Linked DNA regions of Homo sapiens: region 2 is linked to region 1. Evidence: fine-mapped expression QTL. Tissue or cell type: whole blood. Region 1 holds a variant in brackets; the other region holds the start of a gene. All regions are shown on one strand. Distances are between the middles of the regions.

Evidence for each region. PIP is the estimated chance that this variant, and not a neighbour inherited with it, causes the effect.
Region 2: MGLL starts here. The variant in region 1 is fine-mapped to the expression of MGLL in whole blood (TOPMed, PIP above 0.99).

The regions. Positions count from the first base shown.
Region 1 is chr3:127,698,669-127,706,668 of GRCh38, forward strand. All of the region lies in intron 6 of MGLL (monoglyceride lipase), which reads right to left. Among named protein-coding and RNA genes, the nearest start is that of ABTB1, 30 kb to the left of the region's middle. RefSeq lists enhancers at 3,202-3,949, 3,950-4,695, 4,258-4,552, 7,767-8,000. The variant C/T (reference allele first, on the strand shown) is at 3,343.
Region 2 is chr3:127,819,079-127,827,200 of GRCh38, forward strand. It overlaps MGLL (monoglyceride lipase), which reads right to left and starts at 3,437. Exons shown (of 8, transcript NM_007283.7): 1 at 3,231-3,437; 2 at 2,616-2,760. The coding sequence starts at 3,240. RefSeq lists a silencer at 3,879-4,398.

The DNA of each region.
Region 1 (8,000 bases):
CTGTGTCAAGGTCAGTATCCTGGTTGTGATATTGTCCTGTCGTTTTGCAAAATGTCACTGCTGGGGGAAACTGGGTAATGGGTACATGGAATCGCTCTGTATTATTTCTTATAGCTGCTTGTGAGTTACAGTGATCTTAAATGAAAAATTTAACTAAGAACAAGTAACAAAGGCCCAGGCTTTGGCACAGTCTCTCACACCGCCACCTTCCTGTTTGGCTCACCATGGCTCCCACCAGCTGAGACCAGGGTCTGCTGGGGACATGGCAGCTGGAAGCAGGAGCCCAAGCTGGGGACCCAGGTCCAAGTGACCACCCCCACCATGGCTCTAGATAACTGATTTCCTGGGGAGCCCCCACTGGCTGAGAGTTGAAGTCTTTTTTTCCCCGGGGTGGGGGTTGGGAGTATGGTAAGGCTCTACGCCTTCCTGGGCCTCAGTTTCCCCATCAGGGGACCCCAAAGCCTCCTCTTGGGTTTTAAGTTTCACAAGCTGGCCTCCTGTTGAGCTTGACAGCCAGGAATATACCAGCTGGGTCTTCTGAATTTCCAGCACTGTCTCTCTGTGGGAAGAAACTTTGCACTGAAGTACAGTAAATACAGCTGCAATCCTCAGCTGGGAGTTTTCTTACACTTACGTTTGAGCAAAATCTAGACACAACCCCTGCAGTCAAATCTCTTGACCCATTTTTTTTTTAAATTGTTCCATGATGAAATGCAATATCAGAGTTTAATTAGAATACTATGAAAAATAACTAATGCGTGGAGCCCTTGACTCTTTACTAGGTGCTGTAGTAAGTGCTTCACTCGCACTTGCTCATTTAATCTTCACAGGAACCCTGTGATGTAGGAACTATTATTATTACCTTTTTACATATGAGGAGACAAGCTCAGAGAGGTTAGATGACTCACCCAAGGTTACACAGCAAGAGGCAGAGCCAAGGTAAGAACCTAGGCACTCTGCCACTGCCATCAGCATTCTTAGCCACTTACCATGCTCTGCTGCCTGTCTCGAGAGGAGAAGGTGAAGGTCAGTGCTGGGGCATAGACAGCCAGGAGCTATGCAGGTGGCAGGGGCACTAGTGCTCTCAGAAAAGGCAGGAATGGTCCCTGATGAGGACCATAAGCAGATGGGCCTGACAGATGGTGAAGTGATCTGGTGGGGCCCAGGGGTTACCGCCCTTCACAGCCAGCCAGAGGGGATAGGGGAGCCCTTCTGGGCACAGACAGGCATGTGCCCTCCTGGATGCACCCCTAATCACAGAGAAATACAACCCAGCAGGCTTCATCCCTGTAGATCTGTCCACAGCTGGCTCTTCCTGCCCCTCCTTCCCTGCAATCTCCTCCCTTTTCCTACGGAAGCGTCACCCTTCCACCTGGGCTTTAGAGCCCATCCTGGAATTCCCACCTTCTTCCTCCATTGTTTAGATCTCTCTTAATCCATCCATTTCCAATACAGGGAACTCGGATAGCCTTCTCTGGCATAATAGAGAAAGAGTGCATGACACTCTACCTGAGTGATCTCTGTGAAATTTAGAAACCTGCAGGAACCCTAACAAAAACTGGCAAGTCTTTGCAGAGACGATGTCCTCATTTCCCACCTTTGTCTTGAATGGCCGGAGACATAATTTGTGGTGGAAAGAGCTGGATGAGAGAATCCTCCTGTGATGGCTTCTGTCTCCCATCACAAACAGCTTTTCAGCCCCTTGCTCTTAGCTTAATTAACATTGTCTACTCCGCTTTCAGGCCTCAGCTCAGCCTTCCCAGACCCCCACAGACTCTGCTGCCCCAAAACCCTTCTCCCATGCCTCACTTGGCCTGGTCTGCAATCAGCACATCTCTTCCCACATGTCTGCCCCACGTGAGGGTCAGGGCTCTGTCTGTCCTGTCCTCTGCATGGCCTGCACGGTGGCTGGCACAGGGGAAGCCTTTGGTAAACTCTGGTGCAATGGATGAATAAGCAAACCATTCCCTAATCCAGCCCAAGAAGTAGCACCTTTGGGTACTGAGAGGCCAGCACAGACCTCACGGCAGCTGGCAACCGCTGGCCACCTGCTGGCCAAGACAGTGTCCACAATGGGAATGAGACTTAGGACCCTCGAAAGGGGAGGCCCTTGTCATTTCATTCAGTGAATGGCCTTTCTGCGTGCACACGTGGAAAGCCCCGATAGCTTGCTTTTGGAGCCGCTTGGCATTGCTTTCCTTCAGTGCATTGTGCTGAACCCCAGGCCTATGGAATATCCTAAACGCAAATAAGAATGTACCGTAGCCTGGGCACGGTGGTGCATGCCTGTAATCCCAGCACTTTGGGAGGACAAGGTGGGCAGATCACTTGGGCCCAGGAATTCAGAACCAGCCTGGGCAACATGGTAAAACCCCATCTCTACAAAAAATACAAAAATTAGCCTGGTATAGTGGTGCACACCTGTAGTCCCAGCTACTGCGGGGGCTGAGGTGGGAGGATTGCTTGGGCCCAAAAGGTGGAGGCTGCAGTGAGCTGAGATCACGCCACTGCACTCCAGCCTGGGCAAGAGAGCGAGACCCTGCCTCCAAAAAAAAAAAAAAAAAAGCCACCACCAACAACAATAGCAACAACAAAAAAAACAACGTCAATGTCCTGTGGAAGTTGGCCTGAATTTGGAACATGCTGAAGGCTGGAAACAGCTGTGCTTGGCGTGGCCATGGCGTGCTTCCTCTCCCACACATTCCCTCCCAAGCCTGTAGCACCCTGGCCACTGCTGTCAGCCCCCAGAGGGCTCACGGCATTGGGTCCCTGTCACGCAGAGATAAGTCCCATTTCAGACTCACAGATCTGTACCTGTCTCCCTCTGTGAAGAACCCTGTGGTGCTTCCCATGGGGGCTGCAGGGCAAAGTCCTAACTTCTTGGTATGGCCTGGGACACCTCCATCCCTGCCCTCCCTTAACACTCCCCACTCCCCTTGACCCCAGGGCCCTTGCACAGCATGTCCCCTCAGCCTTCAGACCCCTTCCTTGGCTGCCTGTGGAGTTTCTCCCTCCCTATCAACCCTCGGCTCAGCTGCCCTTCCTGCAGGCAGCCTTCCCCGGTCCCGTGTGTGTCATCCCCAGACCCCTTTCCTCATGTGCTTGTCGTCTGCACTACAGACTGGCCCCGATATCTCCGTTTCCACCATCCCCTTCCACGGCCTTTCTCTTATCTGCCAGCAACCCTGTTCCTTCTCTTCAAAGCCCAGGTTAAGCATTTCCTCCTGTGGACAGGTGCCCAGACACCCTCGCCAACATCCATGCTTCTCTCCCCAGGCTCCTGTATCTTCACCAGCACCTCCTTCAGTGGGCCTCTCTCAGAGCTGTGATAGCAACAGCTCT[C/T]ACCTGCTAGGGTCCACACTGTGCTAGGTGGCTGTGCAGTCATCTGGAGGGATCTGAGGAAGGGCAAGACTGAGTGTGGCTTCCAAGGTCACACTGAGGAGATGGAGCGGGGTCCAGACTCAGGTCCTTTTGGAAGCCTGTGCTCTTCCCACTGAGCCTACCGCCTCTTTCCCCTCTGGGCCACTGCAGTTGATGGGCCTGGCTGGCAGGGACAACAGGGCAACTCATGGGGTGTCACAGCCTCCAGCTCTAGCCTGGCTGGAGTGGGAACCCTGAGAAAGTTTGTTGGTGTGGTGAGCTGCCTGCAGGGTGGCAGAGGGGAGATAGGCCCTGCCTGACTCAGCAGAAAGCTTCCCCGGCTCGATAGACCCAAGCAAGCCCTGCCTACCAGGAGGCCTGAGTCCCCACAGTGACCTTACCCTGCCTTGGGCCAGCCCCAGCTGGCGCCCAGCCTCAGTGGCTGAAATTCCTGAACCAGATCAGGGCCATTTGGAAAGAAGATGTTGCTCCACATTCTCCTCTCCTGGAAGCTGCAGTGCCATTTTGGACAGAAAGAGGATAATCAAGGATCAGCCTACAATTCTGAGTTGCCACTTAATCAAGGGTATGCAAATTAATGAGCATTCTTTCCGCCAAATTACTTTTTAGTATGAAGGTTTGAACTCCTGGACATCCTGGCATCTGTTTGTTTGTTTGTTTTTGAGATGGAGTCTCGCTCTTGTCGCCCAGGCTGGAGTGCAGTGGTGCGATCTTGGCTCACTGCAACCTCTGCCTCCCAGGTTCAAATGATTCTCCTGCCTCAGCCTCCCGAGTAGCTGGGATTACAGGCACACGCCACCATGCCCTGCTAATTTTTGTATTTTTAATAAAGACGGGGTTTCACCATGTTGGCCAGGCTGGTCTCGAACTCCTGACCTCAGGTGATCTGCCCACCTCGGCCTCCCAAATTGCTGGGATTACAGGCATGAGCCACCGCGTCCATCCAGCCCTAGCATCCACTTTTAAGAGCAGTGAGGTAGGAATGGCTCTGCAGGTCGCAGCCCCGGCAAATGGGGAGAGCTGTTTGCATAGCCCCGCCCCACCACTGTCTCCTCCCCCAGGATTCCTTCTGCAGGGCTTCAGAGTCTTCACAACCAGAAGTGATGCAAAAAGTCAACCTCTTTCTGTCCTTTGGAATGGAGGGCCCTGGAATGTGGCTCTGAACACAGAAGTGCTCCTAGGTGACCACCAAGGGAAAGGAAAAAGCAGCCACCACATTCTCTGCCTTCTCACAGGCTCAGGGATTTGAGGAATAATAAGAGAAACAAGAAAGAATTCCCAGGTCTTGCAGGACCACTTTCATAACTGCTGATCACAGAACAGCAAAATCATGCAGTCTCAAGTCTTAAATGGTGACAACTGTGGAAACTGGAGCATGGATTAGATCGAGGACAACAAGGGGGAATGACTGTTACTTTTCCTAAATGTGATAATGGCATGGGGTCCTGTGTGAAAGCCTCTGTTTTGAGTCCTTCCTCTTGGGCAACCCAGGCGGAAGTATTCAGGCGCATTCAGGATCGTGGTGTCTGCAGTTTACTTTCACATGGTTCAGCCAAAACAAGGTATCCACTTCATGACATTGGATTTGGCAACAACTTCTTGGATATGACACCAAAAGCACAGGCAACAAAAGAAAAACAGATAAACTGGACTACATCAGAAAGAAAAAAACCCTTATGCTTCAGAGTACATTATCAGCAGAGGGAAAAGGCAGCCCACAGAATAGGAGAAAATACTTGCGAATTATATTTGTATATGTGGTTAATATCCACATAAGGGGTTAATATCCAGAACATATACAGAACTCCTGCAACTTAACAACAAATAACAAACAACCCAATTAGGAAATGAGCAAAGCAAACGATGGGCCAGACAATCCTAGGCAAAAAGAATAAAGCTGGAGGAATCATGCTACCTAACTTCAAACTACATTCCAAGACTACAGTAACCAAAACAGCATGGCACTGGTACACAAACAGACATATAACCAATGGAACAGAATGGAGATCTCAGAAATAAGACTGCATATCTACAACCATCTGATCTTTAACAAACCTGATGAAAACAAGCAATGGGGGAAGGACTCCCTATTTAATAAACAGTGCTGGGAAAACTGGCTAGCCATATGCAGAAAATTTAAACTGGACCCCTTCCTTACACCATATACAAAAATTAACTCAAGGTGGATTAAAGACTTAAATGTAAAACCCAAAACTATAAAATCCCTAGAAGAAAATCTAGGCAATACCATTCAGGACTTAGGCACGGGCAAAGATTTCATGATGAAAATGTCAACACCAAGTGCAACAAAAACAAAAATTAACAAATGGTATCTAATTAAACTAAAGAGCTTCTGCACAGAAAGGGCTTCTGCACAGCAAAAGAAACTATCATTAGAGTGAACAGACAACCTACAGAATAGGAGAAAATTTTTACAATCTATCCACCTGACAAAGGTCTAATATCCAGAATCTACAAGGAATTTAAACAAATTTGCAAGAAAAAAACAACCCCATCAATAATGGGCAAAGGATATGAATAGACACTTTTCAAAAGAAGACATTTATGTGGCCAAGAAACACATGAAAAAAAGCTCAACATCACCGATCATCAGAGAAATGCAAATCAAAACCACAATGAGATACCATCTCACGCCAGTCAGAATGGTGATCATTAAAAAGTCAAGAAACAACAGTTGCTGGTGAGGCTGTGGAGAAATAGGAACACTTTTACATTGTTGGTGAGAATGTAAATTAGTTCAACCATCGTGGAAGACAACAGAAACCCCATTTGACCCAGCAATCCCTTTGGGTATTACTGGGTATACACCCAAAGGAATATAAATCATTCTATTATAAAGATACATGCACACGTATGTTTATTGTAGCACTACTCACAATAGCAAAGACATGGAATCAACCCAAATACCCATCAATGATAGACTGGATAAAGAAAATGTGGTACATATACATCATGGAATACTATGCAGCCATAAAAAGGAACAAGATCATGTCCTTTGCAGGGACGTGGGTGAAGCTGGAAGCCATTATCCTCAGCAAACTAACGCAGGAACTGAAAACCAAACACCACATGTTCTCACTTATAAATGGGAGCTGAACAATGAGAACATATGGACACAGGGAGGGGAACAATACACACTGGGGCCTGTCAGGAGGAGGGGCACGGGGGGAGGGAGAGCATCAGGATAAATAGCTAATGCATGTGGGGCTTAATACCTAGGTGATGGGTTGCTGGGTGCAGTAAACCACCATGGCACATGTTTACCTATGTAACAAACCTGCACATCCTGCGTATGTATCCTGGAACTTAAAATTAAATTAAACTAAAAAAAAAAGAAAAAGAAAAACAATAGACAAGAAATAGGAAAAAGAAAAGAAATGGGCAAAGGATCTGAACAAACATTTCTCTAAAGAAGACATACAAGGTCCCAGTGCAGTGGCTCACACCTGTAATCCCAGCACTTTGGGAGGCTGAGGCGGGCTGATCACCTGAGGTCAGGAGTTCGAGACTAGCCTGACCACCATGGAGAAACCCCGTCTCTACTAAAAATATGAAATTAGCCTGGTGTGGTGGCACGCGCCTGTAATCCCAGCTACTCAGGAGGCTGAGGCAGGAGAATCGCTTGAATCTGGGAGGTGGAGGTTGTGGTAAGCCAAGATCGCGCCACTGCACTCCAGCCTGGGCGACGAGAGAGAAACTCCATCTCAAAAAAAAAAAAAAAGAAGAAGAAGAAGAAGAAGACAACATACAAATATCCAAAAATCACATGAAAAGACACTCAGCATCACTAACCATTAGGGAAATAGAAATCAAAGCCACACTGAGATGCCACTCCATACCCATTAGGATGGCTACTATCAAAAAACACAACCTAACTAGTGTTGGCGAGGATGTAGGGACACTGGAACCCTTGAGCACTGTTGGTGAGAATGTGAAATGGCACAGCCACCGTGGAAAATGGCAGCATGGTTCCTCCAAAATTACCAGCAGAATATGACCCAGCAATCCCACTTCTGGGTACATACATACCCAAAAGAATGGAAGCAGGGTCTGGAGTAGATATCTGCACCGCCACGGGCACAGCAGCGTTATTCACAACAGCTGAGAGGTGTCTTTGAGAGAGCTTTGCCCAGGCTATGTTCCCACGGAAGCCCAACTGAGCCCACATCTTTCTTTCCTCCACTGCCAAGGCCCTACTATGTGCATGTCCCACGTACCCACAAAGGTACTGAGAAAGAAGCTCAGTTGGGCCTGCTGGACACAGAGAACTCCTCAGTGTGTCCTGTATTTTGCTGGCAGCTGTGGCTTCCCTGACAGTCTCTGCAGTCCCTGGTTTTCTGCTGCCATTAAAGCATCATACTTCCAGGATCTGCCTGTCATGAGCTCACAGCCGTTTCTCCCAGCCTTGGTGGCCGGCAGGAGTGGGACTGGGAGCGGGTCCAGAGCTGGAACATCTACAGAGGGTGGTGCAGGGCGCAAAAGCAACGTAGAGCAATTCACACGCTCCCTCGCCACCACCCCACATGGAGCCATATGCCCAAGAGACTTTCTAGTGCCTGTTGTTTTTTTAGGGCATTGGGAAATTTTTAGCTGCAAAT
Region 2 (8,122 bases), 120 kb after region 1:
ACATGCTTTCTCTTTCTCAGGGTCCAGTCCGAGGAGGCTGGTGTTTATACGACAGAATTTGCTTGCATAAAGCGGGTTAAGCCAGGTTCCCAGTGCAGCGGCTGACACCTGTGGCTTAGTGTTGCTCCGAGCCACCTGCAGAGCCAGTCTTGGAACCCAGCAGGTCCTCTGGGGGCAATATGTCTCTGTAGGTGCTCACGGCAGGCTCCAGGAGCTGGAGGTAACTGGTTGGCCAGAAAATCTACCCAAACCAGTACTGACTAACCGAGGCTGGCACAGATCCTTCTGCATAATAAGATATCCACAGGCCCCCGGGGTGGCTTCTGAGGTCCCTAGGGTCTCTATGAGAAAGATAGCAGAGGCGGGGCTGGAGATGAGGTGCTCTTAACCCAGGTTTTGCCCACAGTTGGTACAGTAGTGGGGGAGGGTTCAGTCTCCTCTTTTTTTGCCCCTTGCTTTTCCTCCCTTCTTTCTTCCTAACTGGGAGGAGACAGGATTGCACAAAGCGAGGCCCTAGTTTTGCTGAAGAGGGGTAAAAAGCCTGGGGGGAAAGATTGAAGCCCTGGTGACTTGAGGTCCCCTCCCTCTTCCTAAAAGCAGAGTGAATGATTCTGTGCAGGCAATAATAATAATACTTATTATAATGATGCTGCGGGGGTCTCCCAGATCATGCAAGAGGGCAGGCAGGCTGAGCAGCTGGTCTCGGTTATGAAGATACAGAGGTGTTTCATGCTGGCTGGCACAAACCTCTGCCCTGAGCCCCCACCCTAGGACCCCCAAGACTGCCCCAAGATCCAGCAAGCACAGGGTTAACATGAGTCATGGCAAGGGGCCTCCAGGACCTCTGCATCATCTCCAGGGGCTGGAGGCAGGGCAGGACAGGTAGGTAGGACCTTGGCCAGCCCCTTCCTCTTTGGTAAACTGAGGATAACACTATGGAAAGTGTTCATACATGCTCATGGTTCTGTTGCTCTTTCTATTTCAGTGCTCCTGCCCTCAATATTTTTTTCCCTTAACCTTTTCTAGACCCATAGGTTTCTTCCAAATTCTGGGGCCGAACTGCCTCAACCATCCACCTCTGTTCTTAAGCCCATCAGCACCCACCACAAGGCGGACGCTGACATCCAAGAGGCAGCTCAGTTTAAATTAAGAAGTTGAGTTATCATCTCTAACTAGAGCAAAAGCAACGGAGCAGAGAGGGCTCCCTGCAATGCAACTTCAGCACAGAGATTGTGAAAACCACCCGCAGGCGAAGGGAGGGCAGGGCAGCCAACTTGACCGTTTCTAACCCACTCACCCACCACCCTCCCCCTGTGCCAGGACTGCAGAACCTCTTTATTTTTGTTGACTTCGAACTAGGACAACCTCACTACTTAACCAACAAAGCCCCCCAAGTCTGAGACTCAGACATTAAAAACTTCTATTTTCAATTATTTGTCTTCTTTCTGTATATTGATCAAATTACCACAAACCACTAATCTGTTAGAAATTAATCCAAGATTGAGCAATTCTACAGCCAGTTAAGTCAGAGTGGAGAATTAATGATTAATTAGCATCATAATGCTCAACAACCCCCCCACTTCCTCTAATGCGTATGCACGTACAGACACATTCTTTAAGAAATGTATTACCAGAACTGGTAGGAACTCTTCTCAGCACGTTACCCACTTGAAAACACTAGAGAGAAACCATAGCCAGTCTGTGTAGCTGCCCTGAAGCTATGACTCTATGCCGGGTTTTAAAAGTCCATATCTCTGTGTTTTTAACGTGCAGCTCCCTGGATCATAGATACCTTGATGAAGACAGAGAAGAAATTTTACACCTGTGTGAGGGTTGGGTGATTACTGGAGCACAAAGAGAGACATAATCCAACCACACAATGATCCCTAGGAGACAAGAGGCCTACAAAACAGGTAAAATGTCCCTGGAACAGGAAATGTTCTTGTCACCAGGCCAATTGGTTACCACAAATAAATTCTTTTTCCAAATAACACAAACAAGCAGGGTTTTCCTGCTTCATCCAAGAGGAGGGAGCAGCAGCAGGAGACCAGCTGTCTTGTGTATAGTCCCAATGTTTGCTTCTAATAGCAAGACAAATCCTTGATGGAAAATGTACAAAGTAATTGAGCTGGCAAGGAATCAGAAGGAAATACCCAGGCCCCTTTCTTCCTGGTGACACATGTATGCCATCTTCAGAAGCTCAGAAACAAGCAGGAAAAGTGAGCAAAGGTGAAGATATATGTATTACTTCGGGTTTCTCATCCATCTAGGGGATTTTCCTTAATTGTCGGGTTTGATTTTAAATGAATGCCTGTACAACCGGAAATCAACTCCAGTACAAAAAATAAAGTCATGTGGAATTTTTGAAAATTGCCATACGGTAGGATCCATATCTGAGTTGTTATAATGAAAAAAGAATTCCTGCTTCTTAAATTTAAAAATTATAAAGTATACATTTTAGCTTTGTTAACATTGCTCAGCCTAACATTAAAACGGCAGGGGAAGTAGGTCATAGAGAAAGCGGCCCCGCCCCAGATGGCACATGATAACGACCAGAGGAGAAGCAGGGGCCATGCTCCCCTGTCACCTGGGGTGACTTTCTGGGGAAGACTTACTTGGGTGTGCCTGTGGGTTTCCAGTACCTGCAGAAGAGGTACTGTCCGTCTGCATTGACCAGGTGAGGGAGGTCCTGGTAGGGAATGCTCTGCGGGGTCCGCCTGGGGGAACTTTCCTCTGGCATGCTGGAAGGGTCTTCAGGTCCTAGAAGGAAAAGTGACATATTCCAAAGTCAGAAATATCTCAAGAACATGTATGGATAGGAGAGAAAAGTCTAGTTCAGAGTCAGTAACATTTTTTTAAAAGCAGTTTAAAAAACCCCTCTGTTTCAAAGGTTTAAAACATACATACATTTCTTGCAAACCTCTCCAAGACTGAAAAATCCCATTTGTTCTTAAGAAAATGCTCACTTTATTTTTTAAGTGCCTCATTACAGTTTTTCCCCCTTCCCATCTGTGTTTATTTTAAATCATTTCAGGAAACTTCATCTTAAAGACTATTTTAGCTGTAATCAAGTGGAAATTATAGTCAGCTCTATGGGTACAAAGACCCAGCTGCAAGAAGACCCATCTATCTTAAAATCTCCAAGGAACAGTTTCAAGTGGGCACAATAATGAGGTGGATGATACTCAGATTATTCCTCCCATCTGAAATTCCAAGGATACATGACAAACCTGTTTCCATTATGTGCTGGCGTTTGCATTCCACAACCACGACAGCCTGGAGAATCAGAACCAGGCAAATCGGGCTGTTCCCTCATCTGGGCGGCCCCAAGGCAGCAGGAAGGCAGCTCCGAGCCCTCTTCCCGCACCCAGACCCTGCCTTTCGGGCTGGGGCGCTCAGCCGGGAGCCTGCTTCCAGCTCCCACCGGCAGGCTCTCCGGGGCTCCCCTCCCTCCCCAGGGCGGGGAGCGGCGCTGCGATTCTCCACTACTAGTTCATGTCATCACTTTTCCTAAACAAATCGCTAGAGGGGCTCGGAGAAGGGAGGGGCCCGGGAAACTGGGAAACTAGCTCCGCGCACACCGAGGCACCTCGCAGACGCACAAATGCGGGTGCCCAAGGCAAAGTCGCCCCCAAGGCTTCTCACAAACTTTGCTTCCTGTGCGTCTCCGACAGCACAGGACACGTAGCCCCGAAGCTGTCATCGGAAATGCCGCTGGGAAAACCGGGTGGGCTTCGCCGGGTGTCTGCACCGGGGAAGGTGGGGACTAGAAAGATGGAGTTGATGGGGACAAGTTGGTTTGGGGGCTGGTGCGAAGGAGCAGGGAGGGCGCGCGCGCGCGCACACGCGCGCACACTCGGACACGCGCGCACACACACCGTGCACACACACACACGCACACATGGGTAGCGGGAGCCCACGCCGGGCGTGTCCGGGACCCCAGTGCTGCTCCCCACCCCTGACGGCGGCACTGGCGGGCTGGGGCAGGGGCCGGGAGGCAGTTACCGGGGCCACGAGCGCCGCTGTCGCGTTCCCCGAGCGCAGCGGATCCTCGTTTGCGGCGGGCCAGGGCCGGGACGAGCTGCGCGCGACCGGCTTCGCGGCGACAGGGTGCGGCGTCTGCGCCGCCACTTTATCCCTGGGCCGGCTCGGCGGCGGGGGCGGCCCGAGGTGGGTGGGGACGCGCGGGACCCGGCGGGCGGCGGGCGGCGCGGGGAGGCGGCGCCCGGGGCCCACGTGTGCCCGGCCCGCGGGGAGGAGCGGGGGCGCCGCCCGCCGACCCAGCCACGCACTCCTCTCCTCCGCGCCTCGTGGACAGCCGCGCCCCGGGGTGGCCGCCCGAGGACTGTCAGGGAGGCCTGAACTGAGCTGGGTTCATGGGAGCCTCAGCGCGGGAGGACACACCACACCCACGGGCACACGCGCGCACACAGACCCACAGGCACCACACGTACACAGACAACTCGCGCAGGGCCGCACACTCACCACACGTGTACACATGTGCACTCCCAAAGTCACTACACTGCACGCAGGGACATACAGACACACATCCCAGAGATACCACATGCATACAGACACACACAGACCACACATGCATGCACACACACAAGCCGAGACATAGGCACAGACAACCCACAGAGACACAGAGGTGCACAGACATATGCAGACTATACACCTGGCCCCCACATAGACACAGACACACTCACATCATACACACACAGTCGCACACAGACACACTCACACTTCATTGCAGTCAGACACATACAATGCTGGAGGGGCAATTAACCGGTCGTGGTGGCATGCGCCTGTAGTCCCAGCTACTCAGGAGAATCGCTTGAACCCGGGAGGCAGAGGTTGCAGTGAGCCGATACCACACCATTGCACTTCAGCCTGGGTGACAGAGTGAGACTCCATCTCGGGGAAAAAAAAATGCTGGAGGGGGTCCACTTGACTCTAGGGTAGTGTAAAAGCAGATGGTGCATGGCTACAAATGCCTTGTCCCTTCCTGGCAATCCCCAGCAACTCTCCCGTTCCCAGCGGCTGTGACCCCCAGATAAAACCTCTGGTGCATCTACACAGGCCAGGGCACAGTCTGAGCTCTGTCCAGTATAACTAGCAACGTGGCCGTGGAGGGTAAGGCCACTGGACTGAGACTCCACACCACCTGGGTTGAACATTAGCTCCTCCGCTTGCTCTTTGAGCCTCAGTCTACCTACCTTCAACCTGTGAGTGATATACCTATGCCCCAGTGGAGTGTCCCTGTCTCACACTGACCTCAAGAGGCCTTCCTGTCTTTCTCCGCAAAAAATTCTACACCATAGCAGCGTTGAGGACTGTGTCTCAGCGTCACACTGTGTGTGTCCAAGGAGGCCCAAGTTGCTACAGAGCCTGTGGTCTAACTTGAGAAATAAAACAACAGCCTTTGAGCAGTGGCTTGAGTTGTAGGCACTGCTGAGCGTGACTTACCCACTGTCTGGCCTCCAGCAGGCCACGAGGCCTGGAGCAGAGGAGTGGCTAAGTGACTTCTGGTCGGGGCAGCTCTACAGAATCCATGCAAGAGAGGTTTAGGGGCGGCAGTCTCAGGGGCAGGAAGCTTGGGGGCTTCACTCAAAGCTGGACATGCTAAGTGCACCGGATTTCCGTTGGTTATAATTCATGGAAAGGAAGGGTGCTCGGGGGTCTGATGGACGCTTTTATCAAGGCATTATTTCAAATGTTCCTGGCTCTAACATTTTATGATTTAAAATACACAGCTTGAAAATTTGGAGGAGAGGCCGGGCTCAGTGGCTCACGCCTGTAATCCCAGTCCTTTGGGAGGCCAGGCAGGTGGATCATCTGAGGTCAGGAGCTGGAGACCAGCCTGACCAACATGGTGAAACCCCATCTCTACTAAAAATACAAAAATTAGCTGGGCATGGTAGCGGGCACCTGTAATCCCAGCTACTCGGGAGGCTGAGGCAGGAGAATCGCTTGAACCCGGGAGACAGAGGTTGCAGTGATTGCACTCCAGCCTGAGCGACAGAGCAAGGCTCTGTCTCAAAAAAAAAAAAAAAAAAAAAAAGCTTTGAGGAGAGACTTCACTGAAGTTGTCAGAGGGATCTCAGTAGAAGTGACATTTGCAAACTTGAAGAGATCCCCCAAACTTGGTTATGGACAGAACTGAGACTGTGGTGTGTGGCCAGCCAACTGGGAATTTGGGAGTTAAGAGACAGATCGTATTGTTCTGTATCTGGCTTTTTCTTTTAATTAAACTTATTCTGAGATAATTGTAGATTCGCATGCAGTTGTAACAAATAATAAAGAGAGATGCTATGTGCCCTTTACTCAGTTTCCTGCAATGGCAACTTCTCACAAACCACAGTAAATATCACAACAGGATACTGACACTGATAGAATATCTGTAGTCAAGCTACAGAACGTCTCTACCCCACAAAGTGGTATGCTTTTATAGCCACATCCACTTCCCTCTCATCCTCACTCCCCTAGAACCCCTGGCAACTGCTAATTTGTTCTCCATTTCTAAAATTTTGTCATTTCAAGGATATTTTATGAATAGAATCATAAAGTACATAACCTCTAGGATTCACCTTTTCATTCAGCATAATTCCAGGTGGGTTGGGTGTAGCAGTCCACAGTATGGAAGTACCACAGTGTGTCTAACAGGTCATCTGCTGAAGGATATCTGCGTTGTTTCCAGTGTTTGTTGATTAAGAATAAAGCTGCTGTAAACCTCCGTGTACATGTTTTTGTGTGAACCTAAGTCTTCATTCTCTGAGATGAGGGCCCAGGAGTGCAATTGCTGAGCTGTAGGGAAATTGCAAGTTTTTAAAGAGAATGCCAAAATGTTTTCCAGAGTGACTGTAGCATTTTACATTCCTACCAGCAGTGTAGGAGAGAACCAGTCTCTCAGCATTCATGTCAGCATGTAGTGTTGTCACCATTTTAAAAATTTTAGTCTTTCTGTTAAGTGTGTAGTGATGATATTTCACTGTGGTTTTTAATTTGCTTTTGCCTAATGGCTAATGTTGTTTCATGTGCGTATTTGCCATCTATATATCCCATTCAGTAAAATGTCTTTTCTTGTCTTTCGGCTATTTTCTTGCCCCCCACCCCCCTTTTTTTTTTTTTTTTTTTGAGACTGAGCCTCACTCTGTAGCCCAAGCTGAAGTGCAGTGGCGCCATCTTGTTTCATTGCAACCTCCACCTCCCAGGCTCAAACAATTCTCATGCCTCAGCCTCCCTAGTAGCTGGGACTACAGGTGCAGGCCACCACACCTGGCTAACTTTTTGTATTTTAGTAGAGACGGGGTTTCATCATGTTGCCCAGGGTGGTCTCAAATTCCTGAGCTCAGGCGATCTGACCGGCCTCAGCCTCCCAAAGTGCTGGAATTACAGGCATGAGCCACCACGCCCATCCTTTAGGCTATTTTCTTTCTTTCTTTTCTTTTCTTTTTTCTTTTTTTTGAGACAGGGTCTCGTTCTGTCACCCAGTCTGGAGTGCGTTGGTACGATCTCCGTTCATTGCAGCCTTTGGCTATTTTTTAATTGTTTGCTTGTTGTTTTCTTACTGTTGAGTTTTGAGAGTTCTTGGTATATTCTAGACATTAGTCTACTAGATACTAGATGTGTGATTGCAAATATTTTCTTCCAGTCTGTAGCTTGTCTTTTAATCCTTTTAACAAGGTCTTTTGCAGAGCAAAAGTTTTCATTTTGATCAGAAACAATTTATCAATTTTTTGTTTTATGGATTATGCATTTGGTGTCAAGTCTAAGAACTCTGTGTAGTCCTACCTCAAGAGATTTTCTCCTGTGTTTTTCTCTAAAAGTTGTATAGATTTACATTTTATGCTTAAGTCTGTAAGCTATTTTGAGTTACTTTTTGTCTGGAGTGTGAGATTTAGATCAAGGTTCATTTGTCTCTACATGTCCCATTGCTCCAGCACAGTTTGTTGAAAAGGCTGCCTTTCCTCCACTGAATTGCTTTTGCACTTTTGTAAAATTCAGCTGCCTGCTTGTACAGGTCTATTTCTGGGTTCTCTCTTTTGTTTCTTTGGTCTGTGTCTATTCCTCCACCAATACCACACAGTCTTGATTATTGAAGTTCTCTATAAATCTTGAAATT